2 separate regions of the Homo sapiens genome follow, and region 1 is linked to region 2. Evidence: fine-mapped expression QTL. A gene starts in region 2. The other region holds a variant in brackets. All regions are shown on one strand. Distances are from middle to middle.

Region 1 (10,822 bases), 48 kb after region 2:
ACCAGATAGTTGTCCAGCTTCATCAAATCTGTCTCCAGTTTCTTCCGGAAGTGGCAGTGTCCCCCTACTCCCTGCCATCCAGGGTCCCCCGAAGGTCCTGATGTAGCCCTCTGTGCCCAAGACCCCCTTCACCCTCCTTCAGTCCAAGCTTGTCCTTGCCCCCTTCCTACCAGGCAACAGGGGAGGTAATGGGTTAACCACATCATGTAGCCAGGTCAAAGCCATGCTTCTCACCCAAAAGTAGGCATCTTTCACAGGGTGGTTCGGGGAGATAGCTGCACATGGGCGCCATCTGGTGCCCCTCATGGAGCACTGGCCTCCATCTGCTCCACACTAGGGGTCTCAACCCAGATCCTACGTGAGGATCAGGGTGCCCAGGAGCCCCCAGACCTTTTGTAATTGGCATGCTGGGCTGCCAAACGGAGCAGGAGTGTGCCTGCAGGGGCCAGGCTCTGAGGAGGGGGAGGTCCAGGAGCTGACCCGTGGGCAGAGGCAGGGGTCCCTGGTTGGAACCTTACAGCCCACAGAGAGAAGGGCTGTGCCGATACGGATCCCAGAGAGGGGGCGTCCTGGGAACGCATAGCTGACACAGGGGCTCCCCCAGGGATGGGGTTAGGAGAGAGAGCTCAGCCACTCTCCAGGGAGGGGGAGCTGCAGTGAATGAAGGGGTCCCAGACACCTTTTGTAGGAAGTGGCCATTGAGCTGGGCTTCAAGGAGTGAGGACTTCAAAGGAAGGATGGCAGTATGGGCAGAGGGACCTGCCTGAGCACAGGCCTCTGAGGTTGGGGGCTCAGGAAGGTCTGGGCAAAACATGCTCAGAGGCCTGAGTAATAGAGCTAACGGGGTCTGTGTGTGGAGCAGTTCCCAGGTGGGTGCAAGGGGTCCTCTGTGTCTGCCCTCGGAGGGCTGGGGCTGGGGCTTGGGCACTAAGAAGTAACTTGAGCCTCTCCTGGACCAGTTTGTGAAGACCATGGTGCTGGTGGTGCTGACGTTTGCCATCTGCTGGCTGCCCTACCACCTCTACTTCATCCTGGGCAGCTTCCAGGAGGACATCTACTGCCACAAGTTCATCCAGCAAGTCTACCTGGCACTCTTCTGGTTGGCCATGAGCTCTACCATGTACAATCCCATCATCTACTGCTGTCTCAACCACAGGTGAGCCCCCACTCCAGCCCCACCCTCTGCCCTCAGGGCCCCACTGCCCAGCCCCAGGTGGGCTCCCCTGCACAGCTCAAGCATCCATCCTCATTCCTGCCGGAACCTGTGGCCCTGTGCCCCCAGCCTACATGAGAAAGCCGTCCTCACACTCAGCCCCCAGCACAATAATCCCTCTGGCCTGGGCCTAGCTTGAGCCCCCTTCCTCCCCAAATCCTCACCGTCTCCCAGGCTGTAGCTCTCACTGTCTGTCTGTTCCTGCTGGCTCTTCTGGGTTCTGTGTCTGGGGCAAGAGAAGAGAGAAGGGAGGGCCAGAGAGATGAAGGGGAGGGGAGAGTCACAGAGAGGGGGTGGGACAGACAGACGAAGGAAAGAAAAGCTAAGTAGCGGGAGGGAGGGACTGACTTCTGTTCTAGTATTTTCACAAGCTTCCTACTGAGGGCTTTCCTGGAGCCAAGTGAATGGCACCCATCCGGCAGTGGAAGCAGTGGATGGGGGCTGGGGCCAGCACAGGGGTGGGGCAGGCTGCTCCCTGGAAAGCTCACAGTGCATGCCCTGTCCTCCAGGGACTTTCAGGGCAGCTGGGAAGTGACCCTGTCAGAGACAGCCAGGAAGGAGGGGGCCAGAATCTCACTCTCCTGGCATCATCCAGTTTCCCTACGCCTCGTGATTCTGAGGAAATGAGTCCCAGAGAGGGGCCTGCACTTGCTCTGGGGCACCTGGAGAGGTGGGGGGTGGTGAGTCAGGGAGGAACCCAGCCCCAGGAGTTCTGCAGAGCAGGCCTTTCAGTGGCAGGAAACCCTGAAGGTGGGGCAAATAAGGGGCGGCAAGAGGTGGACACAGTCTCACCTCAGTGAGACAATGATGTGGGCGAAGTTGGCCTTGGACCTCTTTGTTCATGTTTTTTGTCACCTCCCTGGCCAGGTAGCCAGGCTACTCATAATGCCATTGGGATCTTTGTGGCTCAGACATTTCACCCGCCTGGGGCAGGCCAAAAGGAAATAAGGAGCTATGATTTTTTGCAGGAGGCCAGAACTCTCTATCTCCTGAGAGGGAAGTAGATAATAGGAGAGAAGCAGGTGTCACCCCCACTCTACAGATGGGGAAACTGAGCTTCAGAAAGTAAGATGCTCCCAAATTCATACAACAAACAGTAAAGCCAGGACTCCATGGGTCTCCAAGGCCTGTCATCTTATCCCCACACCACGCATTTCTCTTTTAAAGACTTGTGGGATTGAAAACCTGGAGACAGGGACTCTGACATCTGGGAGGGGCCACCAGCCCACTGTGTCTGTGGGTTGATCACTCTCCTGCTACCCAAGGGAGATACAGTCCCTGGGAGTCTAAACAACACCCCAGGCTCTACAAGATCCTGACATCACTTCTGGATCATTCCCTTCTCTGAGCAGCCAGCGTTCCCTTTCTGCCGTCTGATTTCTTCCACTCACCGTGTGTGCTTCCTCTGAACTCCCGTTCAGTGCTGCCATGGGGAGAGCTGTTTGTTTTCAAGCAAATGCATCAGAACTTGGTGGCTCCGAGTGTGGGTTTTTCAATGTAGTCCCCTTGGGAAAAGCATCCTTGTTCTCCCAAGTTGCCAAAGCCTCCATTGTGTTTTAGCAGGTTCTTCTTTGACTCATCCCTTAGAAGCCAGTTAACAAGTCAGACAAGAACATCTGCTGGTTTTTTTGTTTGTTTGTTGGTTGGTTGGTTTTTTTAGTAATTATGCTGGGGTCATTTTTTGTTCGTAATAACAGATGACCTAAATCAGCTTAGTCACCCACTTCATTCACTAGACCCAGCTCCAGAACACTCTGGCAGTTTCCAAAAATCAAACTCACCCACGAAGGCATCTCTCAAGAGCCCCTGAGCCATGGGAGGCTCTTGGAGAGAGACAGTGACTTTCCTCTGGAAGGGAGTCAGTTTCCTGGGGGTGGGGGCAGTCACATCACAGCTCCTGAGCCCCTAACTCCCTGGCTCAAGGTGCCCCTCGCTCCCCCAGGTTTCGCTCTGGATTCCGGCTTGCCTTCCGCTGCTGCCCATGGGTCACACCCACCAAGGAAGATAAGCTCGAGCTGACTCCCACGACCTCCCTCTCCACGAGAGTCAACAGGTGTCACACTAAGGAGACTTTGTTCATGGCTGGGGACACAGCCCCCTCCGAGGCTACCAGTGGGGAGGCGGGGCGTCCCCAGGATGGATCAGGGCTATGGTTTGGGTATGGTTTGCTTGCCCCCACCAAAACTCATGTTGAAATTTGATCCCAATGTGGCAGTGTTGGGAGGTAGGGGTTAGTGGGAGGTGTTTGGGTATTGGGGATGGATCCCTTATGAATAGATTAATGCCTTCCAGTTGAAGTGAATCATCACTCTTGTGGGAATGGACTAGTTCCCAAAATAACAAGTTGTTAGAAAGAGTGTGGTGTCCTCAGTTTCCCTGTCTTGCTTCCTCTCTCACCATGTGATCTCTTTGCACACAACACTTCCCTTCCACTTTCCACCATGACAAGAAGCAGCCTGAGGCCTTCACCAGATGCAGCTGCCCAATCTTGGATATTCCAGCCACCAGAATCATGAGCCAAATAAACCTCTTTTCTTTATAAATTACCTAGTCTCAGGTATTCCATGAAAGCAACACAAATGGACTGAGATAGGTGCCTATTGAACCCTGAAGCCTTGTGCCTGGCTGCAGAATGAGGTGTAGCACCCTTTGAGAAGTAGCCAATCGAGAAGACCACATCTGAAAGTTCAGCTCATGCCCCATCCTTCAGTATACCAATACAAAGACAACATGGGGCCAGAACTCCAGAAAGGATGCTGACTTTAAGAGGACTCAGCCACCCATCTCAGAGAGCACTTCAGAGGATCCAGTAAGGGTCAGAAAAGACAGTGTAAGCTGATATTTATCTAATTTAAGAGATGCAAGCTCAAATGCCTTCCTGGGGCATACAAGAATATGTATAAAAGAAAAACTGCAAATGTGATGATAAAAGGCAACTGACTTCCACCCTCAGTTTGAGCTAATAGGGAATGGTGGGGGCCATGGCAACCTGGAGAGGACAGGCATTCAAAGG[G/C]GACAAGAACTACTCAGCTCTGGACAAACGTTGCCACATGATAATGGGAGCCCACTGTTGCTAGATCTTCTAAATCTTTCAAGAGAAGCTATAAATCCACATTTGTATGTGAGTCTTCCAGATTTGTTGAATTTGACCCAAATTTTCATAAACTTTGCATAAGTTAAACAAAACGTATCTGTGGGCAATGCAACCATGACCCTGATTCGCCATCAGGCTGTGGATACAAAGGAGGAAACTTCTTATTTCACAAAGCCCAGTGACTGAGTCAGCTGAGGGCTTCTCTGTCTCAGTATTTAAGAAGTCAGATACAGCCCACGTAGATGGTGATTAAGAGCCAAAAAAATCAGCTGTGTTTCCTCAGGCAAGTCACTTTGACCTCTGCCCAGTATCAAAACTACTTCACAGGGATGCTGTGAGGAACAATGGGAGTAATGCCTATAAACTAGCAGGCCAGACCAGATTAAGTGCCCAATACATGGTAGCCAGGACTTTCTTTTTTTTTTTTTTTTTTTTTATGAGACAGGGTCTCACCTCACTCTGAGACCCAGGCAGGAGTGCAGTGGCACCATCATGATTCAGTGCAGCCTCAACCTCCTGGGCTCAGGGGATCCTCCTGCCTCAGTCTCCCCTGTAGCTGGGACCACAGATACATACCACCACACCCAGCTAGTTTTTAAGTTTTTTGTAGATATGGGGTCTTGCTATGTTGCCCAGGCTGGTCTTGAACTCCTGGGCTCAACCATTCCTCCTGCCTGTCTCCTGAAGTGGTGGGATTACAGATGTGAGCCACCACACCTGGCTGTTAGCCATGACTTTTAACTATTTCACACAAAAGCCACCTACAAAGCAGCAGCACAGCTCCCACTCCCACTTCTGCAGCAAGAAGCTAGAGGGCAGAAAGCAGCAACTGTCCCAACTCCCAGAAAGCTCCCGGTCTGGCCCAGCCCATCCCAGGGGCACACCTCCTGCTTGCCAACTCAGCCTCCACGCCCTGGTTCCCCTGCAGAAGAGCCATGTAACATTGTCAATGCACACTGGAAGGTGTAATGTTATCTGTGTTCTCCAAAAAATCACTGCTCCGTAGACACCAGCACCATGCCCCTAATAAAGGGACTCTGATCTCACCAAACCAGGTGGTCTGGCAATCGGTCTCGCAGGAAGCCACTTAGAGCCGCAGCTGTGGCTTGGGACATCACAAGGTGCTTGGGTGCAGAGTGACATGGAACCCACCAAGGCTGGGGGAGAATCCAAAATGGTAGCCTGGGGATAGACCAGGAATCTCTTGAGGTGGGGGTGGGAAGGGAGAGTAAAAGGTCAGACAAGGGTTAATTTCCTAGGGATGAGGTCAATCTAAGATCCAGAAGGGGTGGGCCGGGAGCGATGGCTCACGCCTATAATCCCAGCACTATGGGAGGCTGAGGGGGGCAGATTGCTTGAGCTCAGGAGTTGGAGACCAGCCCTGGCAACACAGTGAGACCCTGTCTACAGAAAATAAAAATAAAAAATAAAGAAAAAAGATCCGGGAGCGGGAGCGTGCAGCCAGCCTGGGCTGCTTCAAGATTTCATCTGTGTTTGGGTAGAGAGGGAGGGGAGGGGTGGGGCAGAGCACATTTCATCCTTTGTCTTGGGGTTGGCAGAGAGGAAGATGAAGGGCAGGATCCGGGTGGGGATGGCAGAGAGGGGACCAGTGTTGCAGTCCTCTCACTGAACCCAAGCAGCCTGGAAGCCAAGTGGCCTTGTTCTATAATCCCAGCACTTTAGGAGGCCAAGGCAGGCAGATCACTTGAGGTCAGGAGTTGGAGACCAGCCTGGCCAACATGGTGAAACCCCTTCTCTACTAAAAATACAAAAATTAGCTGGGTGTGGGGATGCACGCCTGTAGTCTCAACTACTCAGGAGGCTGAGGCAGGAGAATCACTTGAACTCGGGAGGCAGAGGTTGCACTGAGCTGAGATTGTGCCACTGCACTCCAGCCTGGGTGACAGGGCAAGACTCCATCTCAAAAAAAAAAACTCCTCCGCCCAGAAGGCCACAAAACTCCCCAGTGTTTGGTCTTTGCCACATCCCAAGAAACTGCACCCCCCTCTGCCTGTCCCCCCGTCCCCAGCCATTAAGCATCACTCGGGTCTTTGAATTGGTACAAAGTTTACTAGGTCATACGACACGGCTCACAAAGCGGTGGGAAATTCCAGTGATGGCATTGTTTGTTGGTTGGTTCCTTTTATCCAAATGGAGACAAGACACATTTCCGCAGGACTGTCCACCTCCCCCCACGAGACAAACAGAATGCAAGACTGTCACACGCGGCTAGGACTGGTTCCACGGACACACGATTTTGTGGCATTGACACACCACGATGCGATGCCAGGCCACAGTGGGTGCCAGGAGGGGAGGAAGCAGCTAATGCTATGCCCACACTCGCCTTCAGGCAGTGCCCCCGGGAGGGAGGCCCGGCAGTGTCTGCTGGTGATAATACATTTCACACAGGGAGGGGGAACCCCAAGGATGGGCTTTGGAGGCCCAGAAGGCCTGTCAGGTGGTGTGATTTTCCATCTCCAGCCAATAAATAACTCTGTTGGATGAATGCATACATTAGAAATGGATGCCACTACACTTCACACGTGGGGGACCAGGTCAAAATCAAACCATGCAAAGTGGCAGGGCAAGTGAGGAGGGATCCGGGTGAGAGATATTATCAACAGCACACGCTCTATTCTGTACCCTACAATATATACCATTAGTTGGATTTTGCTTTCCTCCCCGCGCCGGCAGGCCCTGGCGCCAGCGTCTCCCAGCGCAACTCGCTGGGAGGGTAGGGGGTCGCCGCTTGAAGAGAGAAGTGCTGGAGAGGCAGTAGGCTGGGGATCCCGGACTCTTAGCTGCTTGCCTCTGTGCGTAACCGCACGCCCACGGCCGTGATGAGGGCGGCCCCCTTGCCGCTGCCATCCTCAGACAGGAGGAAGGACACGTTACATTTTGGTGACAGTTCCTTCACCGTCTGGTGCATGATTCTGGAGAAGCTAAAAAGGACGAGAAAACAGAAGGTAGTTGGAGGAAGATGAGAGACGCTGGGCCTACCCGAAAACACCAAAGCACAGACAGCCCCCTGACTGGTGATGATTCGACTTAGGATTCTTCGACTTTGTGATGGGTTTATCAGGACATAAGCATCGGAAGTCAAAGAGACTCTGAACCCAACAACAAGGAGGGTGAACATGGTTGGGAGGCAGGCTGCTTAGAAGCAGCTGTGGCCAGTTGAGAATGGCTGGGAGGAAAGTGGGCCCACGGTCAATCCCATTGTCACAGTTTTCAGCAGGGAGGCCCAACTGCGAATCCAAACACAACTGCTCTGTATGGCTTATGAAGGCTAGGACATGAATAACACACACACCCACATCGGAGCTTGAGGCTCCAGGGGGACCTCAAAACCAAGGAGGATGTTAGGGGCTGACATGGATCATTAAGGCAGGTGCAAGCCAGCCAAGCACTGGATCGGTTCAGGAGGCTATGCAGGAATGAATATCACCCATCTCCAGCTGCAACCCTGAGACCCCCAGCGCCCCACCATCAACAGCCTGGCCCCCAAAGACAGGAATGCCTTCCAGTGAAGATAGTATCTGAACAAAGGCTGAATCTACATGCTTGTAAGTTGGGCTCAAAATGAAGGGCAGGGCCAGGCTGAAGATGCTTGTGGTGAGGGGCTCTCAAAAGTAGTCACTGTCCTTGGTTGGGGACCTATTAGGTGGGCGGAGTGCGGTGGCTCATGCCAGCACTTTGGGAGGCCAAGGTGGGAGGATCACTTGAGCCAAGGAGTTTGAGGACCTACTAGGTGCCCCATATTTTACAGCTCTAATTTCTAGTCCTGCCAGTGGCTGCCACCTCATGAGGAAGATGAGATTTTGCAGGGATTAAGCAATTGCACACAGATTCTAAGTGACGGTGCCAGGGTTAAATCCAAGAGTATGTGGCTCCAAAGCCTAGCTCTAAACCACTCCTGTGTGCTGCCTCAGCTGATGGCAAGGACAGCTATTAAGGGGGAGAGACAGAGGTGAGGATGGAGCAAGACAGATGGTTCCACCCCAAGCCACGGCCATGAGGTAAGCAGGTAATGTCTACACTGAGTCGGGTGAGGTTGCTTATAAGTAGGGTGACACTATGGCCTCATTTATCTGGGATGGTCCTAGTTTGCCTACAGTCCCAGAGTAATAATTATTAGCACTCTTGACTGGCAAGAGTACCCTAGTGTAGACAATAAATAAATAATATGGTCACCCTATTCATAAGGTGAGACATGCGGTGGATCACAATCACACAGCAAGTGCAATCACATGTCCTTCTCTGGCATGGGGGGTCAGATGCCTGACCAGAGGGAGGCCACTCCCTACCCCTCCCTGCCATGAAGCCCAGGGCCCAAACCGCTCCCGCCCTTCCAAGTCTTAGCAAACTGATTCAGCAGATGAACAAGAGAGTGGCTATCCTCCTTTCCTATTTTATTTTTTGAAATAGGGTCTCACTCTGTTGCCCAGGCTGGAGTACAGTGGCGTGATCTGGGCTCACTGCAACCTCCACCTCCCAGGCTCAAGCAATCCTCTTCCCTCAGCCTCCCGAGTAGCTGGGACTACAGGCATTCACCACCATCCCTGGCTAATTTTCAAAATTTTTTTGTACAGACAAGGTCTCACTATGTTGCCTAGGCTGGTCTCAAACTCCTGGACTGAAGCAGTCCTCCCACCTAGGCCTCCCAAAGTGCTGGATTACAGGTGTGAACCACTGCACCCAGCTCCTCCCCTTTCTTAATATCCTCTCCCCACTTACCCAACAGAGCCTCTGGCCTGGCTACAGCTCACCAGGCTTATGAGTGAGCCCACGCCCACCCTCACCTCCTCTCCCACTGCCTAGCCCCCACCTAAGGGGGACCAGGAGGAGTGGGGTGAGGGTCACATCATGCCACTGGTGTGAGCTGGCCAAGTGAAGCCACTTCTCTGTCTCCCTAAGGATCCCAGTCAAACCCTACAAACTGTTCATTACCTTGTCCTAGACAATCCCCAGCTCCTGAACGCACAGCCTTCAGCCTGGCTGGGCTCCCGCAGGGCATTTCCCCAGCGTAAACCACACCCTGATACCCCCTAACCCAAAGGGATCCCAGCAAGCTCTGCGCATCCCAACTGGAAGGCCCACTCACTGTGGATGAAGCTTGTAGAGTGTCCCGTCCACTCCCACAGTCACATTCAGACGGTCCAGTCCTCTGTTCTCGCGGATCTTATCCACAACCGCAGCCATGCCTGCGCCACACAGCTGTGCGGCCCTCCTGGACACCACCCCGCACACTGTCTTGACGAGGATACTGTCATCGCAGGTGCTATTCAGACCTAGCTGCTGGAGGATAGCCCGGACCTGGAGCAGTGCTAATCGGTCACTGTGGGGGACAAGAGCCAGAGGGCTGGATGAAGCAGGACCCACAAGAGCAGCCTGGAGACCACGTCCAAAGGACGCCCCCCGCCCCCAATCACTGTACTCATCCACAGACAGAGTCAAGGGCAAGTGTTACATGTTAAACTGTGGAGAATTTGGCAAATCTAGCAAAATAAAAATTGGAAAATCTAAACCATTCACTATCTCAACATCTAGGAAAATGCTATTAACATTTTAATATATTTCCTTCCAGTTTATTTTTCCTAGCTGGTATGCTTCTCATGATATGCAAAATGGGATTATCCTTGATATGTGATTTTCTTTCTCTTTCCTGTTTCATGCATTGAGCAATTTCCCACAGCCTTATCTGAGAACAGGATTGGAAACAGCTGCTGCAGTATTCCCTCTAGGGATGCACCATGATTTCTTTAGCCAGCTTGGAGAAATTCAAGTTAATTGCAATTTTCTGCTATTATAAAGAAACATTTTGATAAGGTTTGTTTATAAATCTTTGTGTGCAATTCTGATGTTTTTCCTTAGGATAAATTTCTGGGTCAACGAGCTTTTGCTACACATTGCCAGATGCCTTACAGAAAATTGTATCCATTTACTCTTCAGCAGAGTATTTGGCCACACTTATCCTCACTGGAAAAGAGCATTTTTTTACAACTTTTGACAGTTTTATAAGAAGGCATCACAAGACTGTAGTTCAATTTATATTATTCTCTATTAGTGAGGATGATCTCTTTTTTTTCCATTTGTTTTTTGGCCATATAAACTACTTCTTACGTCTCAAGACTTTTCTCCTGATATATTTGTCTTATTTATATTAAATTGAAAGAGACGATAACTGGGATGGTACAATGAAGACCAGCCAGGCTTCTTGGAGGACTTACCATGTAACATATATTTTACATACATTACCTTACTTACTCCTCAAACAACCAATGAATGTATGATTATTCCCATTTTAAAGATAAGGCAACTGAGGCTGGGAGAAATTGAGTATTGCAAAGCACACAGCCGGTGGAGAAGAGCAGGTGTAGACCAGACCTGCCAAAGCCCACCATGCCCTGCTAGGCGTCTTGTCATACACAGTACAAATGTCTTCCTCAGTTTACCGTTGCCTTTTAAGTTTGATTACTTTTTTTTTTTACTTACAGACACTATGTAGCTATATT
Region 2 (8,000 bases):
CTCATGCAGGCTGGAGTGCAGTGGCACAATCTCAACTCACTTCAACCTCCGTCTCCTGAGCTCAGGTGATCCTCCTACCTCAGCCTCCCAAGTAGCTGTGACTACAGGTGCATGCCACCACGCCCAGCTAATTTTTGTATTTTTAGTAGAGACAGAGTTTCATCATGTTGCCCAGGCTGGTCTCGAACTCCCAGGTTCAAGCAATCTGCCCATCTTGGCCTTCCAAAGTGCTAGGATTACAGGCATGAGCCACAATGCCTGGTCAATAGTAATTTTTTTTTTTAAACCGAGTCTTACACTGTCACCCAACTACAGTGCCGTGGCACGATGTCAGCTCACTGCAACCTCCACCTCCTGGGTTCAAACAATTCTCATGCTTCAGCCTCCCGAGTAGCTGGGATTACAGGCACACACCACCACGCCTGGCTAATTTTTGTATTTTTAGTAGAGATGAGGTTTCACCATGTTAGCCAGGCTGGTCTCAAACTCCAGACCTCGGGTGATCCTCCCGCCTCAGTCTCCCAAAATGCTGGGATTACAAGCATGAGCCACCGGGCCCGGCCCCAGTAGTAATTTTTAAAGTAAGCAAAAAGTCTTACAGAAGGTACAAGGCTGTCATAAAACTTATGGCCCTCCAGACCTAAAAACTGAGATGCAAATTGCTAGCAGTTTGGACTTACAAAGCAAGTAACCCTTCCCTCAACCCCAGAGATGGCACCAGAGATGGCACCAGAGATAATAGGCTTTCCTGTAAATGGTTTCCAAATAACAGTAAACCTGGTCCAGGACAGATTACTTACTCACACTGGGCCCTGCCCTGCAGTCAAACTCTGGCACCTGGAGCTGCTCTGGCAGAGTTGGCAGGTGGCTGAGTTCTTGGCATGGGTGTAGAGACTTTTAAACAGAAATACTTCCAGGGATGGGAGTTAAGGATTTGGTAAGGCAACCTCAGTTGGCAGAGGAGGGATTCCAAGTTCTGAGAACCACCCTGCCCAAGAGAAGCAAGGCAAGGGCCATTGGGTGGGCTTCTCTGGGGGCTGCAAAGGACAGTGACAGAACAAAGCCTTAAAAATTAGAGTTCAGTTTTATTTAACTGCATGAGGTATGTTTGTACTGCACTGATTTTGCTCATATGTCACTCTTTCCCCATATCACTAATCCTAAAACAATTCAGTGAGGTACAGGGCAGAGATTCACTTATTCATTTTATAGATGAGAAAATGGAAACGTGAGGAGGTAGAGAGACTGGTTTGTGATTATATATCTGGGGAAGGGGTGAAGCCCAAAATACAACTCCATCTTCCTACCTCCCCACCCATCAACCTTAGGCTCTTTCAACTCTGATTTACAGAGAGAAGGGCTCACAGAACACACAAGGGGCAGGCACAGAAATCCTGGGGACTTAGGGGACCTATGAGACCATCTAGGGCAGCAGTTTTCAATACTGACTGCACACTAGAATTACCTTAATTCTAGTAAGTAATTTACTACAATTAAGCTTATGTAAATTTAAATAAATACCTATGCCAGGGCACAAGAATCTGATGCAACCGCTGATTTATAGCTCAAATCACCCCCACTCCCATCCCACATATGACCTTCTGTCTCCCTAGAGCTTCCACCAACAGGTCCTTGCTCCATCCTCCGCCCCCCAAACATACTGTTCATCTCTCCTCCACATTACCTAGAGTCAGAGAATTGGATTGGAAACTGGCCTCAGACTAGTCTTCTAGATGGAAAAGTCAATGAACAGTTCTGAGGCCCAAAACAGGAAAGTGACTTGCCTAAGATATCCATAAGTCAGTAACAGAGCTGAATCTGGATCTCCGATTACCAGGCAAGGCCCCACCCACAAAGGGGTCACAGGGAAAGCCAGTCCTGATGGCAAATCCAGCAGCTCCTGCTAGCAGAAGAGACCCAGCAAGGGGCTAAGGAGGACACCAGGGGAGAGTGTGTGTATTTGGTGGGAATGGGGTGTCAGTGACCACCCTGGGTCCCTGGGCAAGTCTGCTCTTGTGGCATACTGCAGGCAGAGAGCGATTCTGGAGTGACAGGGGCGGAGCTGGCCTATAGGAAGATATCCTCATCTCTAGAATAGGGCCCAGCCTAATATGAAACGCCCTTACAGAAACCCAATCTCTTGGGGCAGCTTACACCACAGGTGTCCAAATTCCCTGCCCACGATAGTAATAATGTCTCACACTTCTTGAGCTCTTCACTAGGCACCATACCCGGCCTATTTCACGTAATCTCCGCGAGCATCCTACAAGTTGAATATAATTACTGTGTCCATTTACAGATGAGGAAACCATGGCCGAGAGGAATGAAGTAACTTCCCCAAGATCACTCAGCAAGTGCTCATTTCAGAAACGCACAAACTGAAATTGGAACGATACAGAGATTAGCAATGTTTTAAATAAAAAATAAAATATAAAATAAAAGACCACTCGGAGCGACGGAATTCAAAGCTTGGTTCATGTCTAAACACTACCATCCTGCCCCCTAACAAGGCAGAGGAGGAGGTAAAGCCCAGCGACAGCGGAAACTGAGCACCTAGGTGTGCAGGAGACGTCGTCTGGTGGACTTCTCCTCGCCACGCAGGAGGCACGTGCATCCACCAAAGAGGAAACCAAGACGGAGCGGGGAAGCGTCTCGCTCAGGGGCATCAGCAAGTAACTAGCAGGGACCAGACCCGGAATCCAGGTCTCCCAACCCCGACTGCAAATCCTAACTACTTAAGCTCCACAGGCCGATGCAGAGGCAGTCAGTCCTACCGGGTAGGCGTGGTGGGCGCGGCCAGCGCGTTCACCTCAGCCTAGCCAGCCGGCCAGCGGACGCACAGCGGGCAAACCGCCCAGCCGGTGCACACAGGTGAGCCAGGTGGCACTCGGTCGGTCGACAACCGGCTCTCACACTCCCGAAAGGGCGGCTGAAAATTCAGGCTGAGCTCTGGCCGCCCGAATGTGAGGTAGAAAGACAAGGAGTCCGCGCGCGCTCACCCGCGCACTCCCTGGAGCGGCTAAGTGTGGACCCAACCCCGGGCCAGTGAGGGGGCGGCCGGATTGTGGGTCCCCACCCCCATCCCCGGGCCCTACTGGGGTCACTCACCCAGAACACGGTGGAATAGATGATAAGTGAAAACTTGAGCCAGAGGTAGGAGAAGCGCGCGCAGTAGCGCACCTGCTCCGAGTCCCCGCGCGGCATCCTGGGCGCTCCCCGCGCGGGTTACGGGGGCTCCGGGGCTCTCCGGCTCGGTCCCTCAGCCAGCGCTCGTGGCCCCACCTGCGGCTGCCGGGCTACCAGCCCCGCCACCGGCGTTCTCTCCGGGACTGACACTGGAGCGCGGCAATCACAGCCCCAGCCGGGAAGCCTGCCAGCCCTGGCGGCCAATGGGAGGCCGCGGCTGCCTAGCGTCTGGGAGGGGGCGGGCCAGGGGCGGGGCTGCTGCCCTGGGCCCTAGAGGGGACCAAGAAGGGATGGGAGGGGGAGACGGTCTTGCAAATGAGCTCGCGTGCAACTCTGGAAACGCCTGTGCTAATGCAGGGGGCGTGGGAGAGGTGAACCAGAGGTGCTCTAAGGAGAGAGCGAGCGTGCCTAATCGGGGTACATAGAAATGCAAGCTTTCCTCTTGTCAAGAGGGAAAACTTTGGGAAAAGGGCAAGAATTAATCGCCCAGGTGTTGAAAGTGCAAATGAGTGTGCTAAACGTGAATGGAATAAGGAAGTGGAGTTGCTCGGCTCAGGAAGGCTCAGGGAGGCAGACCAGGGTGGGGCTAATAGGCCCCCATGGAGCTGGAGTCTGAAGTTTGCTCGTGAAACAGATCTGCTGAAGGCCTTCACCAAACGACCTCGGAAGTCCCCTTCTTTTGCCAGGTGATAACCCAGCCTTGGGAAGGGTTCCTCCCGGGAAACCCCATCTTCAAACTAGGTTGAAGGCCTGGCGCGGTGACTCACGCCTGTAATCCCAGCACTTTGGGAGGCTGAGGAGGGCGAATGGCTTGAGCCCCAGGAGTTCAAGACCAGCCTGGGCAACATGGCAAAACGCCGACTCTATAATTAAAAAAAATAAAAAGCCAGGCACGGTGGCGCGCCTGTTGTCCCAGCTACTTGGGAGACAGGCGGGAGAATCGCTTGAGTCAGGGAAGTCAAGGCTGCAGTGAGCCGTGATTGTGCCAGTGCACTCCAGCCTGGGAGACAGAGTGAGACCCTCTCTCCAAAACAAAAACAAAAACAAGGCCGGGCACGGTGGCTCACGCCTGTAATACCAACACTTTGGGAGGCCAAGGCGTGCGGATCACTTGAGGTCAGGAGTTCGAGACTAGCCTGGACAACGTGGTGAAACCCTGTCTCTACTAAGAAATACAAAAAAAATTAGCCGGGCAGGGTGGTGCATGCCTGTAGTCCCAGCTACTGGGGAGGCTGAAGCAGGAGAATCGCTTGAACCCGGGAGGCGGAAGTTACAGTGAACCGAGATCCCGCCACTGCACTCCAGCCTGGGTGACAAAGGGAGACTCCATCTCAAAAAAACAAAAAACAAACAAACAGAAACTATAGGTGAGGGAGGCAGCTCCCTCTCTTGCACATAGCCAGCCACTAACCCAGCCTCCTCCCACCTGGCCTTTTCTCAGCCTGGGACCAGAGGTGGCTGTGAGCCTGTCTCTCATGCTAGATGGTCCCAGCTTTACTCACTGTTGTTTCCTGTCTCCCAAGCCTAGCTCAGCCTGGGACTTGGGAGCCAGACAATCCCTGCTGTGGCCTTCAGTAATTAAATCCATGGCAGAGGTCATAAGCTCTAGCAGTGCTGGGTGGGGTCCCTGGTGGTGATTTCAGGAACGACACTCTTATACAAGTCCCCAGTCCTGGGTTCCCAGGGCTCCTGCATACACAAACTCAACAGAGAAGGACAGACTCAGAGACTTAGTCCAGGCTGGCTTTAGCCCCCAGAGCTCTGCCCTAGGAGGAAGAAAGCAAGATTGGGGGGTGGGGAGGGAGGCAGTGCCATGCCTGGAAGGGTAAAAGGAAACCAATTTCCTGGTACAAAACAAACAAACCTTGGGAGGATGTTTGTGTGGGGTAGAGAAATAGAACCAGAGCCAGGCACAGTGGCTCATGCCTGTAATCCCTGCACTTTGGGAGGCCAAGGTGAGAGGTTTGCTTGAGTCCAGGAGTTTCAGACCAGTCTGGGCAACGTAGCAAGACCTCATCTCCACTGAAAATCAAAAAAATTAGCCAAGCATGGTGTCTCGTGCCTGTAGTCCCAGCTACTTGGGAGGGTGAGGTGGGGGTATCACTTCTCGAGCCCAAAAGATCAAGGCTGCAGTGAGCTATGATTGTGCTACGGCACTCCAGCCTGGACAACAAAGCAAGACCCTGTCTCAAAAAAAAAACAACAGGGAAAAGAAAAGGTGGAAAGAGAACCAGAGAGTAATGCAAGCTGCCCTCAAATGATTATCTGAGGGCCAAGAAGGCATCTTACCATAGTGTTAAAAGTTGTCCATTCTGGCCGGGCGCGGTGGCTCACACCTGTAATCCCAACACTTTGGGAGGCCAAGGCAGGGGGATCACTCGAGGTCAGGAGCTCAAGATCAGCCTGGCCAACATGGTGAAACCCTGGCTCTACTAAAAATACAAAAATTAGCCGGGCATGGTGATGGGTGCCTGTAATCCCAGCTACTCGGGAGGCTGAGGCAGGAGAATCACTTGAACCTGGATAGCAGAGGTTGCAATGAGTCAAGATCGTGCCACTGCACTCCAGCCTGGATGACAGAGCGAGACTCGGTCCCCAAAAAAAAAAAAAGTTGTCCTTTCTGTCCTTTGAGGAGGAAGACTAACTTTTTATTCCTCTTTGAGGGCTAGAGCCTCCACCCAGCCCTGCAGAGCTAAGTCCACACCCATTATTTGAGGTGCTAGTCTCTTCCCCACCCATAGAAGCTTGGAACCCTCTTCATACCCTGGAAGGCTAGTTTAGCCTCCTAGTTCCCTTTCATTCTCCATATTTAAACTACAGTCGAAACTGCCACACACCTCCATCAGGTTTCCTTCCCAGTTGCCCCTGGACTTCTATTCTTCCCTTCTGGCCTCTCCAGCCAGCTGCATTTTCTCTCATCTTTCAAATATTCCCTGGTGACACACAAGCTTCTTAGCAAGCCCTCTCAGCTCTCCCTAAGCCCTCGAGGTGAGCCATCCCTACAAAGAGCCTTGGAGCTCTTTGGGGCTGGCACAGCCTTTCCCTGGCTGCTGGGCTTCTTCACTGTGCCTCCCCACCTGCAATCCTGACCCTGACCCCAAGCACTAGGGCTCCTCCTGAACCACATTTGCAAACACTGAGACCTCAGAAGAAATGGCCATCTGTTTCCCACTTTTCCTCCTTTAGCCAGGAACTCTGGCCTAGGGGCCAGCAGGCCTGGTGCAAATCCTGGTTTTGCCATTACTTTTTTGTAGGACTGTTAGAATGTGTGGCATAGTGTGACACACAGGTGTGAATGCAACCCTAGCTGCAGACTAAAAGCACCTGGTAAGCTTTAAATGTATCCTGATATTCAAGCCCCACTGCAGTCAAGTCAAAATCCCCACCAACAGGAACGTGGTAATCAGTATTATTTTTAAACTCCCCAGGTAATTTCTCATTTTTATGTTTATTTTTATTTTTTTGAGAGGCAGTCTTGCTCTGTCACCCAGGCTGGAGTGCAGTGGCGTGATCTTGACTCACTGCAACCTCCGCTATACAGGTTCAAGTGATTCTCCTGCCTCAGCCTACCAAGTAGCTGACATTACAGGCCCCCGCCACCACACCCAGCTAATTTTTGTATTTTAGTAGAGACAAGTTTCACCATGTTGGTCAGGCTGGTCTTGAACTCCTGACCTCAAATCATCAGCCCACCTCCGCCTCCCTAAGTGCTAGGATTACAGACATGAGCCATTGTGTCTGGACTCCCCCAGGTAATTTCTAAAGTGCAACCAGAATTAAGCATCACTGGTACAGAGGTAGTCATGAGGGTAAGGTTGTCAGCCAACATCTTACCAGAAAGCCACATTCCAGAAGTCACTTACTCAGCTATCCACTGATATACTGGTAAATATTTAAAAACTAGCTGGTGTGGGGGATTCCAATTTCCATAAAGTAAATACTTCCACCATGTCTGATTTTAAGTTACCAACTTCACTTCAATGAACTTGGGAGTTCAGAGGCATGCAGAGTCTGGAACAATCACTCAGTATCCCATGCAAATATCCATATCTCAATCCACCCCCAAGGCTTTTCTAATTAGCATAATGAATGGATTGGTAAAATTCTGGGCTTATTAATTAGCATAACAGGTATTAGAAATGAGTCTCCTTTGGAGAAATTAACAGTATTAAAGATATTTAGATTGGCTAAAATAGTTTTGGCACCACCCATTCCTTGTTCAAACAGTGTCAAAGAATCTTGGGAAGCTGCTAATTCTCACTTATGGATAATACACTGAGCTAAAGGCTTGAGAGTGCTTCTGTCTCAAAGTATTCCAATGCAGCCATCAGTCAAACTGAGTCCTGCCTTTAGAATATTGTATTTTCCTCCAGCAGACCCTTCTTGCAAGGTGGAAGAGCTCCTAAAAGGACAGAAAGCTGGGCCTTTTTGAGTTTCACAGAAAGGTTGTATGAACCAATTTTGTGGCTACTAGCTAATAAATGTTTGTTTTATAGACATTCGTATGGGCAGCAGAATCCGTCCTGAGATCTGTTTTCTTGATAACTTGACAGTGAGATTTAGGGGGAAATGACTAACCCTTGCCTTTAATGGCTATTACAGTTTGTGAAAAAGAAGCTAACAATTATGCATGACCAATTTGACTTGGGTATGTCTGTATTCATGCCACTGGGCAAAGGTCTCTGTCTGTGCCTCTGTTTCCCCACCTGTGAAACAATGAGGTTGGCCTGTTTCTCTTCCAGCTCTAACAATCTTAGCTATAATTCTCACAGTCAATAGATGAGTCAGCAAATGCACAACGAGCTTCTCCTGTG

The links. PIP is the estimated chance that this variant, and not a neighbour inherited with it, causes the effect. A credible set is the group of variants that fine-mapping cannot tell apart.
Region 1: its variant is the best candidate, but not a certain one, in a credible set for the expression of TSPAN15 in whole blood (TOPMed, PIP 0.52).

The regions. Positions count from the first base shown.
Region 1 is chr10:69,397,418-69,408,239 of GRCh38, reverse strand. HK1 (hexokinase 1) reads right to left here. Exons shown (of 18, transcript NM_000188.3): 17 at 9,412-9,645; 18 at 6,358-7,249. The coding sequence ends at 7,105. It overlaps TACR2 (tachykinin receptor 2), which reads left to right. Exons shown (of 5, transcript NM_001057.3): 4 at 960-1,156; 5 at 3,156-4,337. The coding sequence ends at 3,414. Among named protein-coding and RNA genes, the nearest start is that of TACR2, 14 kb to the left of the region's middle. The variant G/C (reference allele first, on the strand shown) is at 4,227.
Region 2 is chr10:69,446,799-69,454,798 of GRCh38, reverse strand. It overlaps TSPAN15 (tetraspanin 15), which reads right to left and starts at 3,334. Exons shown (of 8, transcript NM_012339.5): 1 at 3,109-3,334. The coding sequence starts at 3,204. RefSeq lists enhancers at 2,314-2,814, 3,606-3,745, 3,695-4,312, 4,313-4,931, 6,249-6,750 and a silencer at 3,176-3,485.